2 separate regions of the Homo sapiens genome follow, and region 1 is reported to be linked to region 2. The links are microRNA targets in miRTarBase. Many come from high-throughput screens and were not tested one by one. Region 2 holds a microRNA gene; the other region holds the end of a gene's coding sequence.
Evidence for each region. Region 2 holds the annotated microRNA hsa-miR-4438 (CACAGGCUUAGAAAAGACAGU, at 1,700-1,720, opposite strand). A microRNA usually pairs through its seed, bases 2 to 8, with sites in the 3' UTR of a target mRNA and lowers its output. Matches are read on the target gene's strand: a 7mer-m8 pairs with bases 2 to 8, a 7mer-A1 pairs with bases 2 to 7 and ends in A, and an 8mer does both.

Region 1 (3,000 bases), not on the chromosome of region 2:
AGACAGACATCTGTAGCAGTGAACGTGGTTTTTTCAGGTTTACTCTGGAATCTGAGGGTGTCAGCTGCGTGAAGCTGCAGATGAACTTCTGAGGACATGGGACACAAGCAATCCCAAGAAACCTCTTGAAATACTGCTTCACATGCAGCTTAATAGGGAAGAAAGTCTGAGTTGCTGATCAGCTAACAGGAGATGCTGGCCCACAAAGGTGGCCTTTATTAGATGAAGGCTGAATTTAGATTACTTGGACTTTGAAGCTGCTGGAAGCTTCCAAGTCTATGTTGCAACCCAGAGCCCACTGAGTTCTACCATGATATAGAATATCCTCTTCTGTAACATGGGGGTGAGGTGCTCCATTCTGAGGGGTCAGGGGGTTGCTCAACTTGACGGACAGCACTTCCACATACCAGGAACTTGCCACTTCACTTTCCAGAAAAATTTGCTTGGCCTCCCATCTTCACTGCATGATATATTCCAGCTTGCAGTAGTGAAGGCTCCTCCATTCCTTGTGGTAGGAAAAGGGAGAGGGCCCTCAGAGGCTGTGTGTGTGTGTGTGTGTGTGTGTGTGTGTGTGTGATGCACAGATGTTACTTATCTGTGTGATTTCTACTGAAAGCACTGAAGGATTAAAGACGGGGAAGGTGGCCGGGTGCGGTGGCTCATGCCTGTAATCCCAGCACCTGGGGAGGCCGAGGTGGGCGGATCACAAGGTCAGGAGTTTGAGACCAGCCTGGCCAACATAGTGAAACCCCAACTCTACTAAAAATACAAAAAATTAGCTGGGCATGGTAGTGGGTGCCTGTAGACCTAGCTACTCGGGAGGCTGAGGCAGGAGAATCACTTGAACCCAGGAGGTGGAAGTTACAGTGAGCCGAGATCACACCACTGCACTCCAGCCTGGGCGACAGTGCAAGACTCTGTCTCAAAAAAAAAAAAAAAGAAAAAGAAAAAGAAAAAAAAAAAACAGGGTAAAGGAACCATACTTGCAGGACGACTGTACCACTCAAACTTTTGAACACGGACATGGCCCTTGCCAGAGAATATCAATGGTGCTAGTGACCACTTCTTGACTCATGGAATTACTCAACATTTTTCTCACCACTGTCAGCATGAGTCTTTAAATAGTGGAAGGCCCAGATGGAGGAGAGGAAATGACCACTTCCAAATGCAAAAGCAGAAATTCAAAGCTGTCTGCTTTCCTATGAATATAGAATTACTACCTCCAGAAACCTAGAAAAAGCAGGGGAAGGACCAGGATGCAGCAGTTTATCCTGGGAGTAGTAAATGTACTCTAATGCAGTGGACACAGTGGACTGTACAGCCAGGGGAAGAGAGTGGGTCAGAGCATTCTGAGAACTGGCCTTGGGGCTTTCACCTCTTATATCAATTGCACATAGAGAAATGGGCAGCGACAGATGGAGGTGACTGGGAATAGTACAACGTAAGTGGGTGGGATCATTGCACCTGAAGCTGAGCAAGTCCCTGACTGATGTGTAGAGTCACTAAGTACAGAACAATTGGAGGGTAAAGGCGGCACAGGCAAAGCCCCTCCTTCAGGTGCCATCCCAGGATCAGTCAAGCTGAAGCCCAGAGGAAATGCATAACTCAAGAATTTTGATCAAGTTGTGCCTTCTGGACAGAGATACCAAGTTCTGAAGGCTGGATTTGGGTGTGATATTCAACATCATGGACTGTGTCTGAGACCAGACCACCACACTCCCCATAGGGGCAGTGATAGGTGGCACCATGCAGACAGTTAGGCGTTGCTAAGTCAGAAGAGGGTCATTTGGGGCAAATGAATCGTCTCACAGGGATTCTACAGGGATGAAGCCAGCAGACAGACCAGAGAGATCTGACAATGGATGGTTTGAAGCAAAAGGCAGGAAGCATGGTTTAAATAAGTGTGGGTGACGTACTTTCTCTACACTGGGTGTCGGTGGTGTGGGTGAGGAGAGGACTAAGGCTTCCATTAAAGCTGGCAACTCTCTTATGTAAGAGAATCTAGTAGAGTGCAACGCTCGTAGGCCATTTTACCTTTTTGTTCCTTTGCTTTTCAGCTTTAATTTTTACAATTTCAGTTTCTCTAATAGTCAAAATGTAATTTGATAAACCAATTTTTTAATGCTGTTAATGAAGCTCCATTTTGGTTCTGATGCTTGGTAATTCAGACAAATCAAACAGTACTGCTATTTGAGGCAGTATTAAAGAATGAGGAGTGTTTGCCATTCTTTTTTTTTTTTTTTTTTTTGAGACTGAGTCTTGCTCTGTCGCCCAGGCTGGAGTGCAGTGGCACGATCTCGGCTCACTGCAACCTCTGCCTCCCGGGTTCATGCCATTCTCCTGCCTCAGCCTCCCGAGTAGCTGGGACTACAGGCGCCCACCACCATGCCCGGGTAATTTTTTATATTTTTAGTAGCGATGGGGTTTCACCCTGTTAGCCAGGATGGTCTCGATCTCCTGACCTCGTGATCCGCCCACCTCGGCCTCCCAAAGTGCTCCCAAAGATTACAGACGTGAGCCACTGTGCCCAGCCGAGTGTTTGCCATTCTTAAATGCCCAAACCCCATGACACTGTGAAACCTGACCCTCAGTAAATAAAGTGACTATCTTGATGCAAGCTTTCATAGTTATTCTCTAGAACGGATTATCTCACATTCAATAATTCATCTACTCAGTCTCAAAGGTCTTCCATACAAACTGCATTCATATCACTTCTCTCCAATATGATGTCTCTGATGCTGAATGAGGTTTGCAGTCTGGTTAAAAGCTTTCCCACATTTATTACATTTATAGGGTTTCTCTCCTGTGTGAATCCTCTGATGTTGAGTCAGGTGAGTGCTTCGGATAAAGGCTTTCTCACAGATTTTACATTTGTAAGGTTTTTCCCTAGTATGAATTCTCTTATGTTGGGTAAGGGCTGAATGGTCACTGAAGGCTTTTTCACATATGTTACATGTATAAGGTTTTTCCCCAGTATGAATTCTCTGATGTTGGGCTAGT
Region 2 (3,161 bases):
GATGGTTTCGATCTCCTGACTTCATGATCCACCCACCTCGGCCTCCCAAAGCGCAGGGATTGCAGGTGTGAGCCACTGCGCCCAGCCACTATTTGAATTCGTTATAGCTTATAGATGTTTCCCTACATTTCCTGCATTACTATCTTTTATATTTAGTTGTCTATTTTATTTTCTTTAGTGATTTGCTTAAATTTCTTTCTCATTTCCTTGTATATAGCTATTTTCTTGGTGGTTACCATAGGGATTATATTTTAGATCCTGCATATATAACATTCTAATTTAAATTTGTACCACCATAACTGCAATAATATATAAAAACTCGGCTCCTTCAAAAGCTCCATTCCCCCACCCTCTCAATTTTTGATGTCACAAAATTATATCTTTATGTATTATACAAAAATATAAACATGTAAGTATTTTAAATTCATTAGTCTCTTAAATTATGTACAAAACAAAATTGGAGTTACAAAGCATAATATGAACTTTTATACAAATTTAAATATATATATATTAACCTCTTAAAGCATGTAGAACACGAAAAGTGCAGTTAAAAAGTATTGTTACAATAATATAAGCTTTTATAATTTTCTATGTATTTTCCTTTATTAAGATCTTTATTTCTTTACACAACTTCAAGTTACTGTCTAGTGTCTTCTCATTTCACTCTGCAGGAGGATTTCTTGCAAGTCAGGTCCAATGGTAACAAGCTCTCCCAACTGTTGTTTTCCTGGGGATGTCTTAATTTCGCCCTCACTTTAAGGACAGTTTGGCTGGATATAAGATTCTTGTTTGATAATGTTTTCTGTTTTTGTTTTTCTTTAGCACTTCGAATGTCAGCCCACTGCCTTCTGGCCTGCAACGTTTCTGGTGAGAAATATACTGATAATCTTACTGATTATTCCTTATAAGTAATATATTGATGTTTTTCTGCTGCTTTTAAGATTCTATCTTTGTCTCCACCTTTTAAAGCTTTGATTATAATGTATTTCAGTTTATGTCTTTTTGAGTTCATCTTCCTTGAATTCTGTTGGATTTCTTGAATGTTTATATTAATGTCTTTTATCAGATTTGGAAAGGTTCTATCCGTTGTTTCTTCAAGTTTTCTCTTCTCTTTCTCCTCTCCTCCTGTGACTCCTTGATTGTGTCACACAGGTCCCTTAGACTCTGTTTACTTTTTTCAATTCTTTTTCCTTCTGTTCCTTGATTTCCATTGTCCTATCTTCAAGTTTACTGACTGTTTCCTTTGCTTGCTCAAATCTTCCTTTGAATCGCTCTAGTAAATTTTTTATTTAAGTTGTTGTACTTTTCAGCTCCCAATTTTTTTTAACTTCTTGTGAGGTTTCCTATCCATTGAATTTTTTTCATTTTGTTCATATATCATTTTCTTGACTTTCTCTATATCTTCCTGTAGTTCTTTGATCATTTAACACAATTATTTTAAAGTCCCTCTGTAGCAGATCCACCATCAAGTCATTTTAGGGATTTCATATTTTCCTTTGGACAAGACATAGTTTCTTAATTTTTTGTATGAATTGTGATTTTGGATCTAATAACATAGTAACTCTAAAAATTAGATTCTCCCTCTTACTGAGAGTTTGCGGTTACTTCAGTCAATGATTTTGCTTTTTATATTGTCATAAGAGGATTCTGTTGTAGGCTATCTCTGTGCCAAGAATCAGTCTGAAGTGTAAACTTAAAGACTGTCTTTTCTAAGCCTGTGCCAAAGGAAAGGCAAGGCACAGGCTTAGAAAAGACAGTCCTTAAGTTTACACTTAGTAACTTAGTCATTTTCTGATTGTCACCATATGTGCAGTTACTTTGAATGCCCTACTTTTTAATGTCTAGCTGTCAAAGGGGGAAAAACAGAAAAATAAAGTAGGAGAAGGGCACTGGCCCTTTTAATCTTCTGGAAGTCACTTCAGCCAGCAGGGAGGGGCTTGCAATAATGGATAGAGGTGCAACAATAACCACTCACCTCTTTGCGTCCATCTTTGTGACCAGAAACAGCAATCAGCAATCAGAGCAAAGATTGCCGATATTTGGATGACAGGTCCTTTTTTTGCCCACTCTGGTTCCTGCATGCTCTGTGCAGACTGCTCCAGTAACATGTGCACAGCTGCCTGCTACAGGGGTGACTGTGGGAAATGGGTAGCTACTACTGTGGTTAAGTGCTGAAATTGACTGAAATTAATCATAATTCGCCATGCAAGCTTTCCCCTAGAAGTTGCAAGCCTTTAGTAGATGTCAAAAATCCAAAATAGTTATATATCAGACAGATTCTGCCAGTACAATTGTTCTCTAGGTGGGAAGACAGATTCCTGGTGCTTCCTACTCCACCATATTTCTATAACTATTTCTCCATAATGTTTTAACTACTGTAATTTTGTAATATCCTTTGAAGTCAGGAAGTGCAGGACCTCCAGCTTGTTCTTTAGATTGTTTGGGCTCTTTTTGGTTCTCTGCGGTTGCATATGAATTTTAGAATTGCTTTTTCTATTTCAGAAAAAAAAAACAGCTATGGGTATTTTGATATGGATGGTATTTAACCTGTGGATAGCTTTAAGTAGTATGGACAACAATATTAAGTCATCTAATTCATGAATATATATGTCTATTTATTACCATCTTTATTTTCTTTAGAAATGTTTGTAGTTTTCAGAGAACAAGTCTTTAGTCTCCTGTTAAGTTTATATTTCTATGTATTTTTGATGCTATTTTAACCCAATTTTTAAAAATTTCCGTTTCAGATTTATGTTAGTATATGAAATCACAACTGATATTTGCATATTGATTTTGTGTCCTGCAACTTTGCTGAATACATTTATTAATTCTAGTAAGCTTTTTTATGTGGAATATTTAGGATTTTTTACATTCCATTTCTTTATTCCCTCTTTGCTCTATAAAGACAACACCATAAGGGTTTCATATGCTAAACATTCAAAAACACTTCTTTAAAAAAGCTATCTACTATCAACTGCCTCAAAGCCATCATTGAGATATTAGCTGAATATAACAGTTATTACATCATTTAATTTCAGTGTCAAAGCTTTACTTTCTTCATATAAAAAAAAACTATTTGAGTGTCTTTTTAAATAAATACACATGCATACCCACACATATCCTAGGCCGTTAAATTTTAATTGGCCTGGTATACATTAGCC

Region 1: the mRNA of ZNF454 is a reported target of hsa-miR-4438. Seed matches in the 3' UTR shown: 7mer-A1 at 2,369-2,375.

What each region holds. Positions count from the first base shown.
Region 1 is chr5:178,965,682-178,968,681 of GRCh38, reverse strand. It overlaps ZNF454 (zinc finger protein 454), which reads right to left. Exons shown (of 5, transcript NM_001178089.3): 5 at 2,249-3,000. The coding sequence ends at 2,709. Among named protein-coding and RNA genes, the nearest start is that of ZNF454, 26 kb to the right of the region's middle.
Region 2 is chr2:213,756,681-213,759,841 of GRCh38, reverse strand. It overlaps MIR4438 (microRNA 4438), which reads right to left and starts at 1,775; the gene lies at 1,683-1,775. All of the region lies in intron 10 of SPAG16 (sperm associated antigen 16), which reads right to left.